7 linked regions of the Homo sapiens genome follow. The protein of the gene in region 2 purifies or fractionates together with the protein of the main gene of each other region. This does not show direct contact. Each region holds a gene or a part of one and is shown on either strand. Other genes may lie near its edges.

Region 1 (3,500 bases), on a different chromosome or scaffold from region 2:
CATTTTTGCATAACTGTGTCATCTTTTGTCTTTTTTTTTTTTTTTTTTTTTTTTGAGACAGAGTCTTGCTCTGTTGCCTAGGCTGGAGTGCAGTGGTGTGATCCCGGCTCACCACAACCTCTGCCTCCCGAGTTCAAGTGATTCTTCTGCCTCAGCCTCCCGAGTAGCTGGGACTACAGGCGCAGCCATGCCCAGCTAATTTTTGTATTTTTAGTAGAGATGGGGTTTCACTATGTTGGCCAGGCTGGTCTCGAACTCCTGACCTCATGATCTGCCCGCCTCAGCCTCCCAAAGTGCTGGGATTACAGGTGTGAGCCACCGTGCCTGACTTGTCTTTTTTTTTTCCTTTGTTTCTGTAGAGATGGGGTCTCACTGTGTTGCCCAAGCTGGTCCTGAAATCCTGGGCTCAAGTGATCCTCCCATCTCAGCCTGCCAAAGTGCTGGGATTATACAGGCATGAGCCACTGCACTTGGCCACTTTATGTTTTTGTAGAGGATTACTTCCAGTTCCTAGTCTAGGCTTGGTATCTGATAAGTTACCTGTAAATTATTGCAAACTTCCAGTCTTCTCTTTGGTAAATAGAGATTAATTGTAATCCTGAAGTAAGGAGTTTTGGTGCTTTTTATAATGCCCTTTGAATGAAAAAATTGATAACTAGTGGATAGGTGGAGATAACATTAAAAGTAGATATATTCTGAAGTTACTAGGTGTTTCTTGAAATTATAAATTTTCCAGTGCAAATGGGAGCTGGGATGAGTTGACAGATTATTAATAAATATAGAGAATGCAGTATGTGTTCATTGGGGCTTATTATTTGTAAGTTGATTTTTAGATAAATAGAGTAGAAATATGACTTTTCCTGAATAAATTAGACCATGTTTCCTGTGTTGTGTGCCTCAACTTGTAGACAAGGCACTTTTTAAAAATATTTACTTTTTGATGCTGCATGCTTCTTTAGAAATGGCTAAGACATTATGTCGTGTCATAACAGTTCAGCAATTTCAGGATGCTAAGACTTCTTTGTATCCTTTGCCAGTTTTTAGACAAATTACTTGACTATTTTCTAACTTTTTAATATATATGAATGCACAATAATTCAAAGTACGAGTCTGTAGATATTTTCCCATTTTTACAACCCAAGACAGAGAGCACTTTAGTGTAGTACATCCTTTGCTTTATTTTTATCAGCCTTGAAAATAACTGCTTTCTTATGTTTTTTTTCTTGAGACAAGAGTCTCGAGTCTCGCTTTGTCACCAGGCTGGAGTGCAGTGGTGTGATCTCGGCTCATTGCAACCTCCGCCACATGGGTTCAAGCGATTCTCCTGCCTCAGCCTCCCAAGTAGCTGGGACTACAGGCACACGCCACCATGCCCAGCTAATTTTTGTATTTTTAGTAGAGATGGGGTTTCACCATGTTGGTCAGGATGGTCTTGATCTCCTGACCTCACGATCTGCCCACCTTGGCCTCCCAAAGTGCTGGGATTACAGGCGTGTGCCACCACACTTGGCCGTTTTTTCCATTACAAGCATAATTCCTAACAAATAGGGGCTGATTTTAGTGTTACAAGGGTTTTTTTTTTTTCAGATCTAAGAAAACATTTATCTCCCTATTTAACTTATTCTATGAAACATTATATAAAACATTACATAAAACTTTACATGAAATATTTCTCACAAGTATTTCATTTGTTCTGGTGCTATTTTTACTTTTGTTATTTTTTTCTACTAGCCACTTTTTGGTCTGGGTTGTATATTAACTATCGTATATATTCTTTTATCTCTTTATTGTATTGTGTACATTTTATTAGTTGACCAGGAAGAGGTTTTTTTTTTTTTTTGCATACATCCTTTATTGATTTGAGGCTGTATACTTGCCATTTTTAGTTAATGCAGTTGATTATATAATGATGTTAATTTAGATTGGGTCATGACTTCAGTCATATCTCCCACTAGCTCATATTGAGTCTTAATGATTAGGAAAAAGTACTCCTTTATGTCCGGATACATGCGTGGTGACTGGAATGTAGGCTGGATTCCAGCTCTGGTTGGTCTCTTCAGCTGCACAACTGTGTACATGTTAGCCCTGTATTAAATTAACTTGAAGTTGTGAGTTTTGCATTATTTGCCACAGATTATACCCACAGCCCTGCTGAATCAACTTAATTTTGCTTTTGGCTATAAAAGGGTTGGGTAAGAAACTTACCACAACCAGTCTTTATTACCACTTGGTGGAAAACAACTAAAAAACACATAACATGCAGTCTACTTGATAGGGGACAGTAGAGGGTGATACGGTGATTTAGAAATAATGTTATTTTTGTAATCTAAGGACAGCATTATTAGGCATCTGGAAAGGAAATGCAGTTACAAACAACTGAAAATTTGACCCTTGCCTTTTTGTTTTCCTCTGTTACAATGTGCAGTAAGTAAGTAAATGAAGTTTTTCCACCAAATTTGTTCACATATATCCTGTTTTTTTCTTTTTTGGGGGGATTTTTTTTTGTCTTCTGATTATATAGGTGTTAGCTTTGCATTGTTTTGGGAACCAAAATGATTCAATTTTTCTGATGGGGAAACATAGTATTGATTTATCTAACCTGATACATTGAACTAAATATTAATAGGTAGGACTTTAGGAGGGAACACGTTCAGTGTTTTGACAGCTGTAAAACTACCTTTGTGACATAGAAGATTGTCTTTTTATCAAATAGCTGTCTAAAACTGATGGCCTCAGTGCAATTGTAATGTAATTTTTTTTTTTTTTTTTTTGAGATGGAGCCTTACTCTGTTTCCCAGGCTGGAGTGCAGTAGTGTGATCTTGGCTCACTGCAACCTCCGACTCCCAGGTTCAAGCAGTTCTCCCTCCTCAGCCTCCTGAATAGCTGAGATTGCAGGCACCCGCTATTATGCCCGGCTAATTTTTGTATTTTTGTGGCGATGGAGTTTCACCATTTTGGCCAGGATGGTCTTGAACTCCTGACCTCAAGTGATTCACCTGCCTCGGCCTCCCAAAGTGTTGGGATTACAGGCCTGAGCCACTGCGCCCTGCTGTAATTTCTTTGTATGTTTCTATGTACCAACATTTTATTACCCTCCAGTTGCTGAATTTTTCTACAATTCAGAAATTTTCTCATATGCATATATAGCTCCTGTGAACATCTTTATACATTTATCTGCATGCAGATCTGATTATTTCATTACAATAGATTCTTAGAAGAATGACTTAGTCGAAAAGTATACACTTCCTAAAAGTCTTGGTAAATATTTCCAAATTACTTCCCTGAAAAATTGTACTAATTTCTAGTATATAAGAGAATGATCAGCTCACTTAACTCTGGTATTGAATGTTATGAGGGTTATTGGTTTTCTATTTTTAATCTGTAAGCCTTTAGAAGAAATGTGTCATTGTCAGTTTAGGTGGTTTTGAGAATGGTAATGAGGGAGGAGGGATGATACTGATGGGATTCTCTTTTTGCAGCTAATATTCTAAAAATTGCT
Region 2 (3,500 bases):
GTAACTTTTAAATCTCTTTACTTCTTCATCTCTAAGAAGAAGGCAATGGAAGTTTTGAGACGGAGTTTCGCTCTTGTCACCCAGGCTGGAGTGCAATGGCGCGATCTCAGCTCCCGACAACCTCTGCCTCCTGGGTTCAAGTGATTCTCCTACCTCAGCCTTCCAAGTAGCTGGGATTACAGGCACGTGCCACCATGCCCAGCTAATTTTTATATTTTTAGTAGAGACGGGGTTTCACCATGTTGGCCAGGATGGTCTCAATCTCTTGACTTCGTGATCCACCCGCCTCAGCCTCCCAAAGTGCTGGGATTACAGGTGTGAGCCACCGCGCCTGGCCGGGACGAGAACTCTTATAATGCATGCCCCAAAGGTTTTAAGTGGATCTGTTTTAGGAAAGGCATAAGGAAATCGAAGGTCTAAAAATTGAGTCTCTTAAAACTGTTCATGTGTGAATATTCCTTTGAAAGTCTTTGTGTAGCTCACTTAAGATGCTGCTGACCCAGAATGTCTCTAGTACATATATTTTTGTTGAAAAGACAATACTTGAATAATTTATACTTTCCTTTTTTCCAATCTCCAGCCACCACATTTGCTCAAAGTATGGGGTTTATCAATGAAGACTTATCTACCACTGCTTCTCAAGCTCTTCATTCAGATTGGCTTGCTCGGAATTGCCAGCCAAATTATTGGAGGGTATGCACACATTTAATTTAAAAAAATAAGTTAATTGAAAATATTCAGTGACATCCTTTCTGCTCAGTGTTGCCTGCCTGTTGTCCAGGGTACTGGTTAGCATCCTGGCTGTACATTAGAACTAGTGGTTTTAGTTGACTCTCCAGGTATGGATGTTCCTGAAACACCTCTAGCTGCATTGGGTGCATATCCAGCATGGAGAGCTACTGGTCTCTCACAATAGTTTTCAAACTGAAGTTTCTGCCATGTGGAGGTGGCTGCCTCAATCAGGGCTGCTCTGCTTGTATTTCTTTCTAACTAAGTCTAAAAAATCAGTTTGGAAACTATGAGTCTAAAATATTTCTTAGATTTTACGTGCAGTGTATCCAGTATCTTGTTCTTGACTTGAGGACATGTAATATTACATGTCTAGTATGTTACCAGTGGAATAATTTTTCTTTAATGAGACTTTTGGCATAAATCAGTTTGCCTTTGCCGTACAGGGTCCTTCTGTGGGATATCTTAGTCTCTCATCTATTTCTTCCCTAAGTCCTAATTACTTTCGAGTAGCCATCAAGTCAGAAGTCCCTTGGGTTAGCACTTGAAAGAGGCTAATCATAAAACGAAGTTAGGGGAGGCACCTAGCGCACTGATGTGTAAGACATGAGGAATAGGAATAGGTTTCTTGCTTTAATACCAGTCTACATACACAACCTAAATTTATGAGTTTGCATTATATTCTTGAGCCCTTTAGATTTATAAAGGAATCTTAAAGCACAACTTAGAATATATTCACATAAACCTAGCTTTGAAGAAACAATAAAAGCTTTTAAAACATATTTTACTTTAAGTCTCAGAATTCTTTGGCCAAGGAACAAATTTCTGAAATTTAAAGGTCCAGTGTGTATCTAATTTCTTTAAGGATTAATATCTAATTTTAAAAAATTTTACTATTGTGTTGAGAATTTTAGATATATATAAAGAGAGAAATTAGGGACCTGTGTCATGCAATATAGATACCTCACCTGTATTATTTAATTCTTAGACTAGAATGGATATTCAGTAAAATTATTTATCTTATTTGTTTTTATATAAGACTTAGTGATTTCTTAGCTTTTAATTCTTATCTTTAAGTTACCAGATGTCTTTTTTTGGTTTCTTGCTAGTGTTTAGCGATTGTACATAATTTCTTGGCAATTTCTAAAAATACCCTTTGTAAGAAATAAAACTTAAATCTTGTTTACAGAATGTTATACCAGATCCCTCAAAATACTGCGGACCCTACAAACCACCTGGTATCTTAAAGCAGGATATTCCTATCCATAAAGAAACAGAAGATGATCGTGGTCATGACACTATTGGTAATTTGCCTTTTGTGCAGTTTTTATGGATAAAGTTTAGTTAATTATCTTCCTGTAGCTCTTCCCTATTCTTCTACCAGAAGTTGATTTTGATTGTTTTAACTGCCAATTAAGTGTGCCTCTCTATAGATAGATCCATCTTGTCTTAGGATCTGTATAAAATTTGGCAAATTATTTATACAAGACACCTAAAACCCAATGACTATTCACTTGCGGATTTTTAAATCTTTATTTGACATTTCATTTTTTGGCAGTTTTATGTTGCTGTATTTTAGTGACCTTAAATAACTTTTTCCAAGTTACAATGTTGAAAATTTACATTAGTCTATGTCTTAGTTTGTTTTTCGCTGTTATAACAGACTACCACAGACTGGGTAATTTATAAACAAAAGTTTATTTGCCTCACAGTTCTGGAGCCTGAGAAGTTCAAGAACAGGGCACTGGCATCTGGCAAGGGCCATCCCAAGGTGGAAGTCAAGAGAATGAGACAGGAAATCGGGTAGAACTCATCCTTTATATCAGGAACCCACTCCCTGCGATAATGGCATTAAGCCCTTTTAGCCTAATCGCCTCTTAAAGGCCCCACCTGTTAATAATAATTAATAATGTTAATTGCCTGTTATAGTGGCAGTTAACAAAATACCCAGACTGGATGGCTTATAAACAACAGAAATTTATTTCTCACAGTTACGGAGGCTGGGAAGTTCAAGGTCAAGGCGCTGGCAGGTTCAGAGTTTGGAGACAGCTTGTTTTCCTGGCTCATGGATGGCGTCTTCTTGCTGTGTCGTCACGTGGTGGAAGGGGCGAGGAAGCTCTCTGGGGCCTCATTTATAAGGGATGAATTCCATTCATGGGGGCTCTGTCCTCATGACCTAATGAGCTCCCAAAGGCCTCACCTCTTGATACCATCACCTTGTGGAATAGGATGTTGACATGAATTTGGGGGAACACAAACATTCAGAGCACAGCAGTTATTACCAGTTGCTCAATTATTTGGTTATATTTGAGGTAAACTTTATACACCTACAGTGATTTTTTTTTTTTAACTTCTAGGCATGGTTGTAATCCATAAGACAGGACATATTGCTGCTGGTACATCTACAAATGGTATAAAATTCAAAATACATGGGTTAGTGTTTCCAAAAGAACAGAGCTCTCAAATATACACTGAATGCAGAGCAATATATGCCGGGTGCTATGGGGGTTGCAAAGCACAGCCCTAGTCTCACAGCTGCGATGAATGAGTGTGAAAGAAAATGCAGTACTCTCTGCTGAGTGCCACAGGAGAGGGAGTCACAGCCAGTGCTATAGGGTTTAGGGGTGGCAGAGGTGATCTCTTTAAGCTGGGGTAGTTAGGAACACCAGTAAAGTGATGCTTGGAGCTCAGCCCTGAGTCATGGTAGTTGAGGTTCAGCGCTCCTACTGGCTAGGAAAGTTGTGTGTGTATATGTGTGTGTGTGTTCAGGG
Region 3 (4,292 bases), on a different chromosome or scaffold from region 2:
GAAAAGCAGACTCAATTGGAATGCTAGTTTTTTTCACATTGTGTAAGTTAAAGGTACAACAGCTGCTATATGCTAAATTATCACTAGTTATGGGACTTTAGTTACAGTACTTGAATTTCCCCCCAATCCAACTTCTTAAAATGTGTTGAAATACCAACTAGCAATAAGTTAATTTCTCCAGTGTAATTGAATAGTCTAACTTGGTATCTTACTCCTTAACTGATTTTGACTAAAATTATAATATTTACAGGAAAAAAAAAAGTTCAGAGTTAAAAGAATACCATGAAAGGGCAAATGATTTTATGGACAAACTTTGAACTGCATCTTCACTGTTCATTACCTTACTGTATTTGCTAAGGAAGCTAAGATCTCATTTAATTTTTGTGTGCTTTGCTTTGGTTCAAAACTAACATCACATTCTCAGAACTTGGTCAGGCCTTAATCAAATAAAATGCTATTGAGCTTCCACTTGGTCTTTCCACTCTGCTAAGTGCAAAGACAGTTCTGGAGAAATCAGTCGTGGCTCATGTCCTCAAGGAGTTGGTCAAAAGACAAGGCTTGGCGAATATGTACGTGCCATGTCAATGAACTGCTACAATGGAATAAACTTATAATAATGCCTAACATTTATTGACTCCTCATAATAAGGCCATAAACTTTGCATGAATTAACTCATAGAAACGTTATGACGTTGTATCACAAGCAATCCTAATTTGCAGATGAGGACACTGAGGCTTAGGGAAGTTATCTAACTTGCCTAAGGTTAAAGCAATATACTGCTTTTATGGTTGCATCTTTAGTAATCTCTGGGGTTGCTGGGACTCCAGTGCGAGAAAGAGCCCGAAATTCGCAAACTTGGATGATGGGGAAGAAAAGGTGTGCTAAACTCAGGTCACAGAGGTCCAGTCTTAATCTTGTTCCTCTGCAAGCCTTGTTGCTCACACCTCTTGACCGACAGTTCGAGGCAAGTGCTCACAGCAAACTTACTCTATGTAAGCCAAGGCCAGATGTGGGGAGAAGGGGCTGAGAAATGTTAGAAACGTGAACGCAGTCCAGGCGGGAGAAGAGAAGGGGGCCTCGAGGGGTGCCCCTATGCAGCCCACACACACGCCAGGCACTAACTTGGAAAAGCAACAAGCTTGGCGGGAGATCCTCCCGCGGCCGGAGGGCCCTGAACCCTAGGCCAAGACTCATCCACAACCTAGGGGGAGGCGGCCACCAGCGCCCCATCGAAGCTAAAGGGCTGACAGAAGGGCTGTAGCGGCAAGTGTGCGCCAACACAGCTGCACACGCCCAGACACCTGAGGCGCTGAGAGGAACTTCCCCGCGATCCGCCCCGGCTGCACAGAGCCTCTTCTCCCCGCCGGGGCCCCGCCCAGCCTCACTTCTTTTAAAAGCAGCAGCCAGCAGCGCGCCGGTGGCGTGCGGCTCGAAAGGCCGGGAGGACGTCATCGACGCGCTGTCGAGCCTCCAGCCCGCCCGGGTTTCCTTCGCAGTCGCGCACCGACGCTCAAACGCGCGCTCCAACCCGCAGCCTCCTCCTGCCTCACCGCCCGAAGATGGCGGCTCTCAAACTCCTCTCCTCCGGGCTTCGGCTCTGCGCCTCTGCCCGCGGATCTGGGGCAACCTGGTACAAGGTAAAGTGCGGGGGAAGAGGAAGGCCATGGGCAGGAAGAACGTGGACCAAACCCTGAGTGGTGCCCGCGTTTTCTTCTCTGCCCCTACCCGCTCTCTCCAGCCTGGGATCTGGCATCCGTGGCGCGGTGCCCTGGTCACGGACACGCGGCGACGCGTTCCTGGCCTCGCCGGCCCCTCGGATGACCGCCTTTGCTTGGTTCTGCAGTCGCTTCCCTGATGGAGCGAGACGCGATAAAGAAGCGCGCGGAGAGGCTGAGAAGGGGCGGGAGGACTCCTGGCAGCGCTCCCGAGCCCTTTGGCGCTCGTCGGCTTCCCTCCTGGCACCCGCCCTTGGATAGGGACTCTGAGGGTCTGAACGGGGGGAGGAGGGCGCCAGTATATGGAGGTTTAGGAGTGAGGCAACAGCGGGTAGGTTTGCGCCCCCGATGTTGGATCTCTGGGCAGAGGAACCTCTAGAGGCCCAGAACCTGAGGCTGGGTTAGCCATGGCTCTGCTCGAGTTCACCGGGGCTGGATGCCGGGTGCGGCGGGTGTGGAATGCCGCTCCCATCCTCTCCTCCCTATTTGGCTCTGCTGCCCCGTAGACTGGAGCGCTCGCCAGGGCGTCTTGCCGGCCAAGCTGGGAAACCATCCGAGGTGTGTCCCTGGCCCGCGCCTGGGCTGCAGGGGAGGACAAACCTTTCTCTCGAGGCCCCTCGTATCCGGGTTAGGGGCTTTCGGTTTTCAGAGCCCTTTGAAATCCTTTTTGTGCCCCACTGCCGACTCTCCACCGAGTGGTATCCGGAGGCATTCCCACCGTGGACTGACTTGTGGTTTTGCCTTATGCACTGTCCTCGCTTGTAAGCCCACCCCTGTCTGGAGCCCTAGGAGCGAATTACAGGACCAGAGCGCCAGGTCCAGGAGGGTGGCTTTATCCCCGCCGTCTCAATCGCGGGAGCCTCTTCCTTGGTATTCAGTAATAGGTCTGAGCTTGACAGCGTGCCATGCACACGGTGCTTACTCCTGAAGCGTGCCTGCCTGGCCCCATTGCTCTTTCCTGCATCCAATCCCTGACCGCTGAGAACACAGAGGAGCCACTGAGCTCCTTCGGTAGGTGCTAGGGAATGGTTCAGAACTGGACCATTTTACTCTTAAATGCCTCTTAGGAAGCATTTTTATAACTGCAGATAGACTTGGATATATAAAGCATTATTAAAAGGGAACTTGACCTTCAGTGAGATTGCAGCGGTGCTGAAGCTAATACAAACCAGAGCACAGCGATACCCTTGGGCCGAGGTCAGGAACGTTCCTTCTTTTGACAGTTACTGATTTGCCCAACTGTAATTTACTCACTTCAAGTCTTTTCCATCTTGAGTATATCATTAAACCATTTCCGAAGCTCAGCAAACCTCATCTTAGAGGGACGAGATGCAAATAAGGGGTTCTGCTATATCTCATTAAAAGTTCATACAGAGTTCAAACTTAGCCCTGTCAGGCTTGATTATCATAGGTCTAACTCCTGCCTTCCACTATTCCCCTAGCTTGTGGCTCTTAGTGCCCTTATTGTTTTTTTTTTTTTGAGACGGAGTCTCGCTCTGTCGCCCAGGCTGGAGTGCAGTGGCGGGATCTCGGCTCACTGCAAGCTCCGCCTCCCGGGTTCACGCCATTCTCCTGCCTCAGCCTCCCAAGTAGCTGGGACTACAGGCGCCCGCCACTACGCCCGGCTAATTTTTTGTATTTTTAGTAGAGACGGGGTTTCACCGTTTTAGCTGGGATGGTCTCGATCTCCTGACCTCGTGATCCGCCCGCCTCGGCCTCCCAAAGTGCTGGGATTACAGCCCTTATTGTTTAGCACTTTAAATCCTCACCTGCTGCTTCTGTTGAACTGTACCACTTATCTACTTGTTTAACTTTTCAGATGTGTATATTGTCTCCTCAACCAGATGACAGTTCCCCGATGGCAGAGACCATATTTATGCCTTACACTTAGTCTCCCTCAACAAACACACTACTCTGCATAGATCAGATATTCTACACATGTTTAAAGTACGGATGAGAGAACCCTCCAGGCAAACAGAAACCTTGAGTTTTTCCACTAAACATAACTAACAGCTAAAACGAGATAGTTATTTTCTTAAATGTTTAACATTTTTATAATGGGCAGGCCCAGTGTCTCGCAGACCTGAGAGTGCATCAGCATTACCTGGAGGTTTTCTAAAACAGATTGCTGTACCCACCCCCAGAATTTCTAATTTAATAGGTCCTGGGTGGGGCCCTAAACTTTGCATTGATAAGTTCCAGGTGATGTTGATGCTGCTGGTCTGGGGACTGACTGCCCCTTTCAGAGTTATCTGGCATGGACTTAGGTGAAAATAGACTATTGGGAGGTATCTTCTTTTCTTCATTATTACTGAGGGGCAGTGGGGAGCATTTAATACTATTTTCACTATAGAAAATTATTAGTGGGAAAAAGGTTATAAGAGTACCACTAACACTTTACCCACCATTCATCCTTGACCCTGTCTTTTCCCAAATCTCTTTCCAACCTCTGACTCTCCTGAGCTGCAGTCCTTCTGGTGCAACTGGTGAACTTCACTTGGATGTCAGTTGGTGCTTAAAGCTCTTTCTGATCCAAAGCAAACTAGCCATAAAGTGGCTTTCCCATTCCTTGTTTTG
Region 4 (4,145 bases), on a different chromosome or scaffold from region 2:
CCCGGGTTGCCATGGCAACCTGCAGCCAGCTCCAGCCCGGGACTCCGCCAGCCTGGGTAGGGGCCGGGACTCGCCAGGCACGGCTGCTCCCAGCTCTGAGGCCTCCTCCTTGGGCTTGGCCCTGTTTCTGCTTGGACACAGAAGTGGTGCAAGGCCACAGAGAGGCACTTCTCCCCTGTCAGGTGGGCCAGGCAGGCCTGGGCTCCCCTGGGCTCCCACTGCCAGCTTTCTCCCAGAGTAAGGCCTGGCCCCTGGGCCTCCAGAGTCCAGCACCTCTCAGCACCCCACCCCGGCACCCATTGCTCCAGCACCCATCACTCCAGCAGCTGTCAAGCCCATCAGCTGCCTGGGTCACCACAGCACCAGTGTATGGACAGGCCTCAGGCGCCGGCCAGGTCAGCGGCCTTGAGGCTGTTATGTGGGCACCGATAGAGGGGCAGTGAGATGATTCCCTGCCTTACCTCACAGCTGGGGGGTGCCAGCACTAGTGTGAAGCTTTCTACGTGATTTTTCTCCTTTAATGGCACTCCTGACAGATGAGGAAACAAGCTCAGAGCAATTAAGCGACTTCCCAAGGTACAGAGCTGCTGCTTGGTAAGAAGCAGAGACTTGCAACTCCTGGGCCCAGGTTCCTGCCCTGGAGCCTGTTCCTGGATGCCCTGGGCTGAGCCCTGCACGTCAGCAGAGCCCATCACCCAACCACTCACCTGACCCCCCGGCCACAGGGCTGTGCCCAGTCTACACAGACACACAGCAGAAAGAGGATGGCCTTCAGGTTTCCATTTAATGGCCAAGCCAGCACTGCCAAGATGTCCTCCTGCCTGAGAAGCCCACCCACGCTGGCACCCCTCAGCCTCACTAGCGGCATCCCAGTCCAGTCCTGGTGTGGGGCCTCATCTCAGCTCCTTCAGCAAGCTGTTGACAGAGCCCAGCAGCTCCTGGAAGTAGCCCTCGTCCTCACCATCCTGCAGCTCCAGGCTGGCCAGCACCTGGTACTCAGCCTGCAGGCTGGCCAGTGTCCTGCCGAGCTGGGGGTCCTGACGGTAGCGGTCCCGGCAGGTGGTCAGGAGGACGCCCAGTGTCTGCAGCACCTTCTCACGGGCATCATGCTCGGGCAGCGCCAGGAGGTGGGCCGTGATCTCGCACCAGCCCTGTTCCCACAGGCCTGGCAGGAGGTGTACCTGGCGATACTGCTGCAGCTTCTCTGGGGACATCTCCTGGGTCAGCTCAGCCTCCTCCTCGGCGAACATCTGCCATCCGCCACAGCCGCAGGCCAGGTAGGGTGGGGGTGGGGAGAGAACACACAGGGAGCAGTTAGCTCACACCTGGCTAGCTCTGCCCTTCAGACAGGAAGGCACGAGGCTGACCCCTGAGGGCCCACCTCTTCCTCTATCCCCAAGTCTGTCTGTCTATTCATTCATTCATCCACCAACAGAAACACTTGTGTGGTGCCAGGTGCTGAAGAAACCACGATGGAGACATAGTCTTACCCTCAAGGAGCTTAAGGTCTAGCAGGAGAATAAAAATTAACTAATTCCCAAATAGCATAAATGTAATCTAACAGTGCAGCATGGAGGCAGACAGGCTGGCTTCAAATTCCTGCTCCACCACTGACTTGCTGAATGACCATGGCTGGCACTTAGCCTCCCTGAGACTCATCGTCATCACCTCCTAAGTGGAGAAACTCAGCCTGTCTGTAAAGCGCAGAAGCCCAGCTCTATCAGCAGAACATGGTGGGAGCCAATCCTGCCGGGCTACCAGCAGCGGGAAAGCCAACACCTGAACCATGACAAGCAGGCAGGTTACCTGAAGGTCAGAGGTAGAGGGTTGGGAGGGGGCAGAGATCTCCCGTGCAGCTGTAGGAAGTGTGCCTGTATGGAGAAAGAAGGAATGCCTGCCCTAACTCCAGGGGAGAATGAAGCACAGGGAAGATGCACAAGGCAAGAGGGAAGCCCAGGAGAAGAGGAGGCCACAGTGGACCACCTGTGCTTCCTGCGGCAGCAGGAAGTCGTGGGGCTGATTGGGGCTGGCAGAGGAAACTGAGGAGGGGTGCAATCCTGCATCCTGGGACAGGAGAGGCTGAGAGGTATCCCCTAGTCCTTTCCTACTTCACCCCTCAGTCCTGCCAGCTTCGCTTCCAAAACACACCCCAATTCTGTCAGCTCCACCTTTGTCCCTTGTGTCCTGCGATCCAGTGCCTCCTGCTCTCACCCTCTCCTCCAGCCCCCAAACCCTCACAGCCTGGCATTGCGGGTGATAAAGACAAAATCAATCCCTTCCCTGGGACTGCGAGGCTCTGCAGGCTCTGCCCCCACTGTGCGCGGCCTGGACCCACTCACACCCACTCCTGTCACTCTAACTCTCCCCTGGGGCCTCTGGAGGCGCAGCTCCGACTTCCAGGTGCACCCCCGCATTGGCCCCATTCACTCCACGGCTCCCTGCACACCTCACCGCCACTGACCGGCCTCCCCTGACTGGCCTTCTCTGCTTATATGCTGCTGTGGTTTGAGTGTGTTCCCTAAAAGTTCAAGTGTTGGAAGCTTAATTCCCAAGGCAGCAGTATTGAGAGGAGCTGCCTAGGTCAGGAGGGCAGCGGGTTCCTTACGGGAGAGCGGTTGTTATTCTAGAGAGCAAGCCCGGCCCAGCATGCTTTTTTCCGCAAGTGCTCTTGCCCTCTCACCTTCCACAATGTTGTCATGCAACACAAAGGCTCCCGCCAGATGCACCCACCCAATCGTGGATTTCCCAGCCTCCCGAATCATGAGCCAAAAACTGCCTTTTCTTTATATTATCCAGTCCCGGGTATTCTGTTAAAGCAGCAGCAGACAGACTACAACACAAGCTCAGGGGAATTCTCTGATAAACATCTGCCTGAAAGCTCAGGGACGACAGGGACTGCGGATTATTTTCCCAGCACCCGGCACAGCAGGCAGCACAGGCAGGCAGGGTCCCCCTGCGGCCCTTCAGCTCCTCAGATGCACCAGAGGCCATGGAATCCAAACCCCAGGCAGGCATCTCACCACTGCAGAAGCCCAGATGTCAGGGCATGGTCTCTCAGTAGAGGTCCTCTCACAGGCCAAGGTACATATGAGGACTGCCTGGGGCCTGGCAGACCCCAGCACCCTGATGGGGGTGTCACATTGCCCATGGGAATTCCACAGTCCTTGGCTGTCATGACAACATGCTGCAGTGATCCCCGAGCTGCATGGCACCCCTCCATCGTGGTGGACAGCTCATGTCCCTCCACCTTCAGGCAGCTCTGGACCCACCCCTAGCTTGGCTAGGTCTTCATTCTTAAGCGCTGCAAGAGGCTGGACTTAGTGACTCACGCCTATAATTCCAATACTTTGGGAAGCTGAGGCAGGACTGCTTGAGCCCAGGAGTTCAAGACCAGCCTGAGCAACATAGTGAGACCCTGTCTACAAAAAACGAACAAAATTAACCAGGCATGGTGGCATGGACCTGTAGTCCCAGCTACTCAGGGGGCTGAGGTGGGAGGATCACTTGAGTCTGGGAGGCAGAGTTTACAGTGAGCCAAGATCGTGCCACTGGGTGACAGAGAGAGACCCTGTCTCAAAAAAAAAAAAAAAAAAGAAAAAAGAAAAGAAAAGAAAAAAGAAAAAAGAAATCACAAGAACAGAGAAGCCCTGACTGCCTCAGCCCAAGTACAGTGTGTCCTAAATCTCTCTGGCTGAAATTTATCTGCTGTCCTCCCTGAAAGAAGAGGGCCATTTCTGTACTGTTTGTAGAGAGATGCCAGTCCTCCCCTCCCCAATCATGTCAGCACCCCAAAGCTTCCAGAGGCAGGCTCCCGGGGCCGGCAGCCTCGGGGCAGCCTTGGTGAGCCTGCCTGGTGGTAGTGTGCTAGCAATGTGTCAGTGCCATAGTGCCCAGGATGCCAGGGCTGGGGGCAGCAGGGACACACACCCAAGACACCAGAGAACAGAGCCCAGTTTCCCTGGGAAATGCCCAGCCAGCTGACATGTCCTTCTCCAGGCTCACTGGCCCAGTCCCAGAACCTGAACTGTGCCCAGGCCTTATCAATTGGATCTGAGCACCACATGGCTGCCTGCTGTTCTAAGAAACTGGATTTCTGCAGCTTTAACAAGAGAAGAGAGAGAAACAGGCAAAGACAGAGAGTTGGG
Region 5 (3,500 bases), on a different chromosome or scaffold from region 2:
CTACTCCAGCCGTGGGAGGGTCCCTTCCACCTGTGCTCACCCCTCGCCCTTCCTTGGTAGCTGCTGAGAAACCCACACATTCCAGATCATTCTCCCACCCTAGCACTTCCTGGTCCACACGGGGGTCCCTGGCTTGCTTGGCCCTTTGCGGGTAAATGATTCAGAACGTGCAGCTCCTCTGGATTCTCAGGAGTCTTCACCACACCTCTGGGTTCTTCTGCCCGAGCCAGGCGTGCAGAGCCAGAGGGCCGGCGCACTTATGTCCCTGAGAGGTGCCTGGCGCTGCCTGTCCTCTCCTATCCAGTTTGAAGCGGGAAAGGGAAGAATGTTCTGGGAAGTACAGGGAAGCCAGGTCCAGGAGAAGCCTTGGCCGAGTCCCTGGAGCGCCTAGTCCTGGCTCTGTGGGGCAGCACCCACACCCTGAGCGTGACCTGGCCCTGCTGTGCGTCGTGCACCTGGGCTCCCCAGCCCTCCTGCTGTGATGCCAGCTGGGAGGTGGACTCTGATGGGCATGTGGCCCCGGCTCCCCCTGCAGGACCGCCCGGGTGTCTTCTCGGCCGGCCTGGACCTGACGGAGATGTGTGGGAGGAGCCCCGCCCACTACGCTGGGTACTGGAAGGCCGTTCAGGAGCTGTGGCTGCGGTTGTACCAGTCCAACCTGGTGCTGGTCTCCGCCATCAACGTGAGTGTCCCCACTCCCAGGTGGCCTCGCTGGCTGTTCTGGGCCAGCGCCAGGGGGTGGGACAGACACTGTCCTGCCCTTGGAATCTCTCACAGGGGAAGGGGACGGTTGGAGAGGCCCTGAGATGTGCACAGGTGAGCGCCATCGCAGACCACGGGGCGTGTTGAGAAAGGTGGGCCTCGGGTGAGGGCCCTGGCCTGGGTCAATCAGACAAGACCCAGAAAAGAGCCAGTGGGTAGGGACCAGGGCCTGGGGTTGATGCCAGCCTGGGTGGAGGCTGTGTGGGTGAGTGGGTGATCGGACCCACATTTTGGAAACATCACTCCATCCCTTCTGGGGGAAGGCCAGGGAAGCCGAGAACAACACGGGGGCTTAACCTCAGGAACCAGGGTGTCCTGCGGGGTGGCTGTGACAAGCCGGGTGTGGGCCGGAGCCTGGTGGAGGGGAGGGCTGGTGTGAGAGGAAGCCTCAAGGGTGCACGGCCATGCAGACAGGATGGGTCCTGCGCGGGGCAGTGGGTACCTGCAGTGACCACAGGGTGAGTGTGGGGTTCCCAGGACATCCTGGTTGCGCTAGCTGCTGGGGTGGTATCGGGGCCCCCTTGGGGCATGACAGTTATGACTAAATGCTTGTGTGGCATTTTAGCATTGAGTAAAAGCACTGAGAGGACAAGCGACTTGCTCCCCTAACTGAATGGTTTTTAAAAGTGATTTATCTGTTGCCGAAGAACTAATGACCCTCGGCTGAGGACGAGCCTCAGACCCTCCTTGCCGAGCGCTAAGGGGCCAGTTCCTTCCTCATCCATTTCCCAGTGCACACCCAGCCCAGCCCAGACCATTGTGGGTGTTGAACCCTGCGGGGGTCGGGGTGCGCCAAGGGCACAGGCCCTCCTTCCTTGGACCTGGCCCTCTGGAATGTGGTTGGGACCAGCAGCACCTAAGAGCCCTGTCCGGCCTCTCCCTGCAGGGAGCCTGCCCCGCTGGAGGCTGCCTGGTGGCCCTGACCTGTGACTACCGCATCCTGGCGGACAACCCCAGGTACTGCATAGGACTCAATGAGACCCAGCTGGGCATCATCGCCCCTTTCTGGTAAGGCCCTGGGCTGCAGCCACGCTCCATGCTTGTTGTGGAGGGAACAGACCCGCCTGGGGCCATGTGGTGAGTGGGTGTCTGCATTTCCAGGTTGAAAGACACCCTGGAGAACACCATCGGGCACCGGGCGGCGGAGCGTGCCCTGCAGCTGGGGCTGCTCTTCCCGCCGGCGGAGGCCCTGCAGGTGGGCATAGTGGACCAGGTGGTCCCGGAGGAGCAGGTGCAGAGCACTGCGCTGTCAGCGATAGCCCAGTGGATGGCCATTCCAGGTGAGGCACGGGGCATGGCGGGCGCCCGATGATGCTGGGGAGACCAGAAGGTTCTCCACCCAAAGGTTTTCTGTGGACATCGTGACTTCGGGAGACTGTTGATAATCACAGCCATGTGGGTGTCAGGAGGCTGCTGTAACAACGCAGCACAGACCGGGTGGCCCAGACCGCAGAAGCTCATCTCACGGTGCTGGAGACCAGAGGTGCAAAATCAAAGTGTGGGCAGGACTGCACTTCCTCCCTGCGTTCCAGGGAGGCTCCTTCCTGCCCCGCCCACTTCTGCTGGCTCCAGGCCTCCCTGGGCTTGTGGGCGCCTCGCTCTAATCTCTGCCTCCATCCTTACGCAGCTTTCTCCCCTGTGTTTCTGTGGGTCTCAGGTCTCTCTCTCCCTTCTCAGGACACCTGCCATGTGATTTAGGACCTACCTTAAATCCAAGATGATCCCAACTTAATTACATCTGCAGAGACTCTTTCCAAATAAGGTCACACTTCCAAGTTCCAGAGCAGTGGTTAGGGCTTGGACCTATCTTTTGGGGCACACTTTTCAACCTACTACAAAGACAATTGTCCACTTCATAGAAAAAGAGCTGGTCATATCAGCGATGGTATAGACCAGGGCCCAGCAAATTCTGTCTCTAAAGGGCCAGGTGGCTTGTGGGCTCTGTAGGTAAGACCTTTGTAGCAGAAAGCAGCCACAGAGGAGACGTAAACTGACAGGTATAGCTGTGTTCCGGCAAAGCTTTATGGACAGTGGGCCAGGTGCGGTGGCTCACGCCTGTAATCTCAGCACTTTGGGAGGCTGAGGCAGGCAGATCACTTGAGATCAGGAGTTCAAGACCAGCCTGGCCAACATGGTGAAACCCCATCTCTACTAAAAATACAGAAATGGGCCAGGCGCGGTGGCTCACACCTGTAATCCCAACATTTTAAGAGGCCGAGGCGGGCGGATCACAAGGTCAGGAGATCAAGACCATCCTGGCTAACACGGTGAAACCCTGTCTCTACTAAAAATACAAAAATTAGCCAGGTGTGGCGGCGGGCGCCTGTAGTCCCAGCTACTCGAGAGGCTGAGGCAGGAGGATGGCGTGAACCCGGGAGGCGGAGCTTGCAGTGAGCTGAGATCGCACCACTGTACTCTAGCCTGAGCAACAGAGAGCAGGACTCTGTCTCAAAAAAAAAAAAAAAAAATGAGCCGGGCGTGATGGCACGTGCCTGTAATTCCAGCTACTGGGAGGTTGAGGCAGGAGAATCGCTTGAACTTGGGAGGCAGAGGTTGCAGTGAGCCAAGATCATGCCATTGTACCCCAGCCTGGGTGACAGAGTGAGACTCTGTCTCAAAAACAACAAAAAAAATTTTATGGACACTGAAATTTGAGTTTCACATAATTTTCACATGTCACAAAATACTAACCTTCTTTTGATTTTCAACTATTCAAAAATGTAAAAACCAGCCCGGCA
Region 6 (3,500 bases), on a different chromosome or scaffold from region 2:
CTGCTTAGTTGTGTATGCGTCAGTATCTTCATCAGAAAATGGGGTAATAATCTCTATCTTGCAGTACTAGAGTAAGGGAATTCCAGCCACAGCAAACCTTTGTTCTATTAAACACCAGGCATAAATTGGGCACCGAAGTCAGACACCAAGGATACAGGTGCGTGCGCGCTTGCGCACGTGTGTGTGTGTGTGTGTGTGTGTGTGTGTGTGTGTGTACATGTGCATGGATGCAGGCATGCAAGCAAGCATACAGCTTCTGTCCTCCCAGAGCTCACAGGCAGTAGGAGGGTGTCAGTTGACAAATTGTTATGTAAATGATTAATTAGTTGCAAGTACAGGGTACTAGGAAATATTTTGTCGGTTGAGTAAGAGACTCGAGGGAGTAAAGCCTGTAAGGAGCTTAGGACCACATCTGGAAGCAGCCAACATGGACGTGGTATGGCGGTGCCTTCTGCTGCTGCTGCTGCTGGTGCTGTTTTTCTCTCTCTTCTCTCCCACTTCCTTCATTCCCCAGGATGTCGAATGTTCATGATAGACCTAGTATTAGAGAACATGCAAGAAAAGGGATGGAGAAAGACACAGGGTTCTCCCAGTGTGGTGGTCGGTCATAACCAGAGCTCCCTCTGTCCTCAGTTGCTGGAATTCCAGATGGCCTGTGACTGCCCTGAGAATGACAATCCCTAAGGAATGGAGTAGGTAGAGTGGAGTAGGTAGAGATGGCTGCCTCTGGCAGGTGCCAGGCCCGCAGCTGGATGGGTCTCAGGGCATGGTAGCCCCGGGGCCCTTCAGTCTCTGTGCCAGGATGTAAGATGGCTGCTTCCTCTTCCAGCTCATTCCAGCCCTGAGTGGCAAGGTCAACACTGCTAAGGGGAGGCTAGCAGATGGCGCCATCTACCTGGCTTATGTTTTGGGGGCTTTTGGTGACCGTGACAACTGACGTGGTGGTGTTTCTTCCACTTGGGGAGCATGGTAAGGGCAGAGCAGCTGCCTAGGTAACTGGGCTCAGACCTGCAGAAAAGGCAAAACCCCAGTGGCTCTCCCTCATTCAGAGCCTCCGAGCCAAGAGGCATCATTTGCAGCCACTGGGCGCCCAGCAGTGTCCTGAGTGCAGCAAGCAGGGAGAATGCGAGAGTGTACTATACCTCCCAGGCCTCGTGCAGACCTCTGATGGCGAGTACTTTGTCATTCCTTCCACAGGCCTTTGTTGAAACCTCACCTTGTGGCAGGCCCCACATTGAGTGTTCAGTGCTTCCTTTGTTCATTTAGCAAATAGTCATGGACCTGGGCCCGTAGTGCCAACGTCCCATGCACCCCCTCTCCTTGCAGCTTAGGTACTTCTTTGCTTCCTCCCAAAGCGCCTTCCCCTTCTCTCCCCTCCACCAGAGTTAACTAGGACTTATCTTTTGGGTCCCAGCTGAAATGTCACTTCTTTTTTTTTTTTTGATGGAGTTTTGCTCTTATTGCCCAGGCTAGAGTGCAATGGTGTGATCTTGGCTCACTGCAACCTCCGCCTCCCGGGTTCAAGCAATTCTCCTGCCTCAGCCTCCCGAGTAGCTGGGATTACAGGCGTGCGCCACCAGCCCAGCTTATTTTTGTATTTTTAGTAGAGACGGAGTTTCACCATGTTGGCCAGGCTGGTCTCGAACTCCTGACCTCAGGTGATCCACCTACCTCAGTCTCCCAAAGTTTTGGGATTACAGGTGTGAGCCACTGCACCTGGCCTGAAATGTCACTTCTAAGGATACCTGCTCTGACTCCCCAGTCCAGGGCAAGTCCCCTGATTGGGCATCCAGAGCCCCAGGCCCCTTCTCCTGCAAGACACTGGTCCCAGTTACGCGACAGGCGCTTATGGGCCCTGTAGGTGGATCTGTCTCCCTCCGGAGCCAGTACGCTCCATGTGGTCAAGGACCTTGTCCGGCTCGCTCACCAAGGACCCCCAGTGCTCAGCAGGGACTGAGTGAGCAGGTCCAGGGAGGTGATACCAAACAAGACAGCCTGGTTTTGCCCTCATGGACCTGGCCATCCATCAAGGATGCTGAATCATCAAAGCCACATCGTACCAAGTGTTCATTGCTGTGGTAGATCGGGCCTGTGGGGGGACTCAGCAGGCACACCCTGGTGGGTTAAGCATGGCTTCCCAGAGGAAGTAACTTTGACACTGGGACCATAGGTATCAGCTACGTGAAAGGAGAGTTCAAAGATCATGTGGGCTGGAGTGGCCAGGAGATACTTCCTGGAGGAAGGACATGGAGTGTATTTGGGTAGGGGAGGGGAGAAGGCAGTATTTAAATTAGAAAGTGCAGTAATTAGTTGAATTTGGATGGTCCTGGTTGAAAGAGAACAGACTGGGCAAAGGTCTGAAGGTGACCTGTGCCGAGGGCCTTTTGCCAGGACAGTGAATGATGAGGCCAGGCTGGCTGGAGTAGGGGGGCAGTGGGGACCAAGTAGGCCAGAAAGCTGGCTGTAATTCCGGTGGGCTTGAAAAGAGTTGCTTTCCAAGAGTGGGGACTCTCTGCCAGCAGTGCTCCCTCTGGTTCCAGTTTCCCAGGCAAGAGAGGCTGCTGGGCTCTTAAAGATCTTGAAGCAAATGAAGGCAAAGGAAGGCCATGCCCGGGGCCCAGGCATCCTGGCTTTTGTGCCTTCCCTCGAGGGTGCCATGCTGCCAGTGGGACAGCTGACACAATGAGCCTTGTTGTGGGAGACCCAGGCCGGGGAGCACAGGCCCGGAGCTGGGAGCCAGGGCAGATGAGGTAGGAGAAGGTAATGATTATAACAACAACATAATAACGGTTGTCTTTATTGAGCAATGACTACATGCCAGACACCGTTCTAAGCCCTTTTGATATTATTCCATGGAATCTTCACACCGTGCTGGGGATGAGGTATTGTGCTGCTTCTATTTTAGAGGAAAAGTGACTGAGGCACAGAGAGGTGGAGACACTTGCCCAAGTTTGTCTCCTCGTGAGCAGCAAGGCTGAAATGTGAGCTATGCCTGCCTGAATCCACAGCCCATCCACACACAGTCCCCAGTAGACAGTGGTGCCACAGTTGAACTCAGAACTGGCTGATTCCAAAGCCCAGTGTGCCCTGTGGCTTCCCGCTGGATTTCCTGAGCAGTCTGGAAGGTTTACAAATGGGCACAGAGGGAGGCTCCCAGAAGCTGGGACAATGCTGGGCCCCAGAACTCCAGAACCCTCTAAGTCAGGGGTGTCCAATCTTTTAGCTTCCCTGGGCCACACTGGAAAAGGAACTGTCTTGGGCGACACGTAAAATACACCAACACTAACAACAGCAGATGAGCTAAAAAAAAAAAAAAGTCCATAAATGTCATAATGTTTTAAGAAAGTTTACAAATTTGTGTTGGGCTGCATTCAAAGCTGTCCTGGGCCACATGCAGCCCATGGACCACAGGTTGGACAAGCTTGCTCTAAGAGATGTGAGGGATTCCACGAGACCAGGTTCCAGTCTAGTTTACACAGCTCCCTCTGTTTGACCTTGAG
Region 7 (4,194 bases), 7.3 Mb from region 2:
CCATTTGTCCTTGACTGGGTGGGTAATGGATGGTAGGAGGATTATGCAATTTTATTTGTAACTGTTTTAGCCAGGACAAAAGCTCTGGAATTCTAAAGCAAAAAATGTATATTTAAATTCATAGTAGTAAAAATCATAGTAACAGTAGTAGACAGGAAATAATAAATGACAGCTTTATCAAGCACTTTGTACACTCAATTAAAAAACCCTCAAATGCTTTTTGCCAGTATGAATATTCCTATTTAAAAGATAGGCAGTAGACTTAGAGATTAGGAAATTCCTGTAAGTCATTCAGCCAGAAATTCTCAGAAAGTCAATTACGTAATAAATGAGCTGAGATTTGAATCTACATCTTTCTTATTCCAAACCTGAAGTCTTTAGCGCATGCGTTGCATAATCGATTCTTTGTTCTCTCTAGGAAGAGTTCTATGGCTACCTAGAAGTTCAGACTCAATAAGTTGTTTGTATCATGGAATGTTTGAATAAGCCTATGTATATTTAACATATTACATAACTAACACATATATACATGAATAACATTTCAATACACTTTTCAATCACAGAACAAAGCAGGTTTTAATAAAGTATAATTTATAGATTCTCTATAAATTATCCTTTATCACTTGAAGAAGACCAGCTAAGAAAGTCAAGGTATATGTTTCAGCTTGCCTTTAAGAAATTAAAGACATTTGAACCTATGAGGGCAATGTATTTGAATGGCTGCTTGTTTAGACTATAGAAATGAATGACTATATTCAATGTATTTGCATGACTGCTTGTTTAGACTATAGAATGAAGAAACGGAAGATCCAGGATGCTTAAACTTTAAAAAGTTGAAGCTTCCTGGATCTTCCGTTTCTTCATTTCTCCTGATATGTTTGTTTCACCTGGACATCTTCTCATTTTTTTGGACTCAGCTCTAATGGTATTTCCTTCTAGAAGCCTTCTTGGTCATTTGCGATTGAGAAGCAATCACTGAGGAGTGTTAAACATTCAATATCCTTTCTGTTCTTAATTATCCTTTGAAAACCTTTCCCCAGACCTTCCTAACCATTGAATACTCATTTGGTTAGTATTCAATGACTGAGTATTTGGTCATTGAATGACCAAATGGGTCAATGGCTTTAGAATATTTATGAATGGACCTTAGAATATTTCTTTAATATTCTTTATCAATGGGCCTTAGAATATTTCTTATGAAAATAAGCCAATAAAATTATGTTAAGTATTGATACTTACCCAGCACTCGGAGAATACTGAAGTGCTCTCTTCATCATCTCTTCTCCAAATTGGATGGTCTTTCCATTTTCTACAGTGATTACGGCAGTCTTAAAAGGAAACATGTTTGGATTTGGTAAGCCACCAGCCAAGGAGATCATCGATTTTGGTCCTCTGCTCAATATGTCAGCTACAATACACATGGAAGAGAAGAAACAATTTCATTGAAGATTGTTATAAGCGGATAGTTAAGCATGCATTATAGTCAATAAAACTATAAAGTTTAACGATTTCTAGTGATAGAGTGTGCTATGGTCTAAATGTTGGTGCTCCCCCAGATTCATACTTGGAAGTTAATACTAATGTGATAGTTTTAACAGGTGGGGTCTCTAGAGGTGATTAGGTCAGGAGGGATCCACCCTCCTGAATGGGATTGGTGCACTTATAAAAGAGGGCTGAGGGAATGCCCTTGGCCCTTCTGCCACGTGAGGACATAGGTTCTCCCTTCTACCACGTGAGGATGCAGCAAGATGGCTCTGTCTATAAGGAAGGGCTCTCACCATGGTGACACAGAAGCTGCTGGCACTTTGATCTTAGACTTCCTAGCTTCCAGAACTGTGAGAAATAATTCTATTGTTCATAAATTACCCAGTTTGTGGTATTTTGTTATAGCAGCCTGAATGGACTAAGACAAAAGCTAGTCTAAAATAAACATACAGAATAACTTTTTCTAGGCACCTCACTTGTGGAGGGACTAAAGAATGAAGGTGACCAAAGAGAAGGCAGAGGGATCAGAAAGACAGCAAAGGGCCACAATAGCAGAAGCCCTCCTCCACTTAGCCCCGACCTGTCTGTGAGCTTCATGGCCCACCCCTCTCCCATTTACCTGGCCCTCTCCACTGTACACCCATCTGCACGCTGTGCATGCCCCTTCTCAGCTTCCCAGGAAGAGCCTTTCTTGATAGCACGCCCCCTCCCTTCCAAGGCCGTGCCCCACAGCAGTCTGCGCCTCTCTCTACTGTTGCTCCTACTCTGCTCCAGCAGAAATACCCGCCTTCCGTTTCAGCCCGAGTTCTTTGAGAACAAAGGCTGTGTCTATTTCATTTCTGCACGCAGAGCCTGGCTCACCGCGAGCGTGCACAGGGGTACGCATGGATGCAACCAAGCGGTGGCTTGCTAGGGAACCCTCCTTAGAGGCTGTGCGAGGAATGCCCCACCCCAAAGGAGAGATGGTCACCCCGTTTCTCACTCATGGTCCGGATGGGAGAAGGGTTTCTGGCTGCGCTCGCTGCCGTGATGAACCGTGCGTAATTCATGTCTTCTGACAGCCAAGCATCAAGCTTCTTCTTCAGTGGTTGAGGACTAGAAAAACCAAAGAGCCTCGTCAAGTCCTGCCTGCTAACTCCTCACTCTGGCAACGCCACCGCGAGATGTGTCCCCCCGCTGCGTCTGGCTTCCCGCGCGCGGTGCCCGGAGAACGCCGCCGAAACTCCCCGGCTGGACGCTGCGTTCGGTCTCCCGGTCCTAAACGGGTCTGGGGCTGTGTGGCGAGCCCGGCAAAGTCCACGCCGCACGCGCTCCTGCGGCCGCCAGGGCCCAGGCCGGTTTTGCCCCGCCGCGGGCCTCGCCGCGCCCCCTCCCGCCCCGCGCCGTGGCCTATGGCCGCCCGCGGCGCGCGCCTCCCCGTCCCGGATCATCGCCCTCAGAGCGCAGGGCGCGGGGTAGCCCAGGCGCGAGGCGCTTGCAGCCCCAGGCCAATGACTCTTGACCTCGCCGCTGGGAATCACCGCAACCCGGCGTCCGCGTTGGCCGGCCTAGGCGCCGGCCCAGAGGCTAGCCCAGGGGCTGACCGAGGGGACCGGAAGTGCCCGTGATCCTAATCCTCGGGAACCATCTGGCGGCGACTTGGGTCCACTGCAGGGGGCTCCCGAGCTGCGCCCAGCCGGGAGCGGCCCCACCCTCGTTCCCGCGCGCTCCGCTGGCCTCCTCTCAGTCACTGGGACTGTGCATTTTGCCCGCTCAGACCATGGCTATGCTAAATACCCATCTTTCGTTAGTGAAACTCTGGGCACTCTCCTGGGAAGCATCCCGGCGACCAAGACGAATTTCAACATCACTTTCTCGAAGATCTCAGCATTTTGGAGTGACGATGGAGTTCTGACAAAAATTTTTGAAAAATCACTCTGAGTCTCTTCAATTTTAGTGTCTACCCTCACATTGAATTTCTGACCTTTCGTTAAATAAGAATTATGTTGGAAGTGAATATCCGGATCTTTTTGGGTCTAGCACCTTGCCTTTTTTTTTCTTACAAAATAACCCTTCTTACTCCCCACCTCCCTCAACTTTTCTGCAATTTCTCCTTCCTGAATCACCAAAATGGAATGTACAAGGTTTAATGTGAGCACTTAATGAGGGAAGGGTTTCAGACAACCTCTCTTTGACTTTAAAAAATTCTTTAATGGTTATTAAAATGAATGAACAGATTCATTCATTCAGCACAAATTTACTGAGTACTTCCTAGATGATTATTGACTCACTGCCAAATGGCTCTCTTTTAAGTTTACCTAATAGGTTGGTCAAGGAGCCACTGCTTTTATCTAGGTCCTGGCAGCAAAAGGCTGAGATAACCCAGTAAAATCTTTGTGCTAGCAGCTAAATAACAAAAAGGAAGTATTGAGAGGTGACAGCCTGCTGGCAGCCCTCGCAGCCCTCGCTCACTCTTGGCGCCTCCTCGGCCTCAGCGCTCACTCTGACCGCGCTTGAGGGGCCCTTCAGCCCGCCGCTGCACTGTGGGAGCCCCTTCCTGGGATAGCGGAGGCCGGAGCCGGCTCCCTCAGCCTGCGGGGAGGTGTGTAGGGAGAGGCACGGGCGGGAACCAGGGCTGTGCGGGCGCTTGCGAGCCAGCTAGAGTTCCGGGTGGGCGTGGGCTTGGCGGGCCGGCACTCAGAGCGGCGGGCCGGCTCCGCCAGACCCGGG

What was found.
Region 1: the proteins of AGA (region 2) and MOB4 purify together in Homo sapiens (affinity purification with mass spectrometry; 3 studies listed by BioGRID and IntAct, with this or other methods). This does not show direct contact.
Region 3: the proteins of AGA (region 2) and OXCT1 fractionate together in Homo sapiens (co-fractionation; one large-scale study listed by BioGRID). This does not show direct contact.
Region 4: the proteins of AGA (region 2) and SIL1 purify together in Homo sapiens (affinity purification with mass spectrometry; one large-scale study listed by BioGRID and IntAct). This does not show direct contact.
Region 5: the proteins of AGA (region 2) and ECI1 fractionate together in Homo sapiens (co-fractionation; one large-scale study listed by BioGRID). This does not show direct contact.
Region 6: the proteins of AGA (region 2) and ZER1 purify together in Homo sapiens (affinity purification with mass spectrometry; 3 studies listed by BioGRID and IntAct, with this or other methods). This does not show direct contact.
Region 7: the proteins of AGA (region 2) and AADAT fractionate together in Homo sapiens (co-fractionation; one large-scale study listed by BioGRID). This does not show direct contact.

What each region holds. Positions count from the first base shown.
Region 1 is NC_000002.12:197,536,566-197,540,065, forward strand, and holds part of MOB4 (MOB-like protein phocein), read left to right. Parts: intron 1-3,500.
Region 2 is NC_000004.12:177,435,938-177,439,437, reverse strand, and holds part of AGA (N(4)-(beta-N-acetylglucosaminyl)-L-asparaginase isoform 1 preproprotein), read left to right. Parts: intron 1-580; coding exon 581-693; intron 694-1,918; coding exon 1,919-2,033; intron 2,034-3,086; coding exon 3,087-3,162; intron 3,163-3,500. UniProt on the Homo sapiens protein: Cleaves the GlcNAc-Asn bond which joins oligosaccharides to the peptide of asparagine-linked glycoproteins.
Region 3 is NC_000005.10:41,867,626-41,871,917, reverse strand, and holds the start of OXCT1 (succinyl-CoA:3-ketoacid coenzyme A transferase 1, mitochondrial isoform 3 precursor), read left to right. Parts: upstream 1-1,492; 5' UTR 1,493-1,559; coding exon 1,560-1,637; exon of another isoform or gene 1,638-2,174; coding exon of another isoform or gene 2,175-2,273; intron 2,274-2,315; exon of another isoform or gene 2,316-4,292. UniProt on the Homo sapiens protein: Key enzyme for ketone body catabolism.
Region 4 is NC_000005.10:138,946,224-138,950,368, forward strand, and holds the end of SIL1 (nucleotide exchange factor SIL1 precursor), read right to left. Parts: intron 1,251-4,145; coding exon 894-1,250; 3' UTR 501-893; downstream 1-500.
Region 5 is NC_000016.10:2,241,588-2,245,087, reverse strand, and holds part of ECI1 (enoyl-CoA delta isomerase 1, mitochondrial isoform 1 precursor), read left to right. Parts: intron 1-535; coding exon 536-682; intron 683-1,648; coding exon 1,649-1,770; intron 1,771-1,863; coding exon 1,864-2,042; intron 2,043-3,269; exon of another isoform or gene 3,270-3,453; intron 3,454-3,500. UniProt on the Homo sapiens protein: Key enzyme of fatty acid beta-oxidation. Able to isomerize both 3-cis (3Z) and 3-trans (3E) double bonds into the 2-trans (2E) form in a range of enoyl-CoA species, with a preference for (3Z)-enoyl-CoAs over (3E)-enoyl-CoAs.
Region 6 is NC_000009.12:128,761,928-128,765,427, reverse strand, and holds part of ZER1 (protein zer-1 homolog), read left to right. Parts: intron 1-3,500. UniProt on the Homo sapiens protein: Serves as substrate adapter subunit in the E3 ubiquitin ligase complex ZYG11B-CUL2-Elongin BC. Acts to target substrates bearing N-terminal degrons for proteasomal degradation with the first four residues of substrates being the key recognition elements.
Region 7 is NC_000004.12:170,087,157-170,091,350, forward strand, and holds the start of AADAT (kynurenine/alpha-aminoadipate aminotransferase, mitochondrial), read right to left. Parts: upstream 2,801-4,194; 5' UTR 2,581-2,800; coding exon of another isoform or gene 2,535-2,580; coding exon 2,468-2,534; coding exon of another isoform or gene 2,456-2,467; intron 1,409-2,455; coding exon 1,240-1,408; intron 93-1,239; coding exon 1-92. UniProt on the Homo sapiens protein: Transaminase with broad substrate specificity. Has transaminase activity towards aminoadipate, kynurenine, methionine and glutamate. Shows activity also towards tryptophan, aspartate and hydroxykynurenine.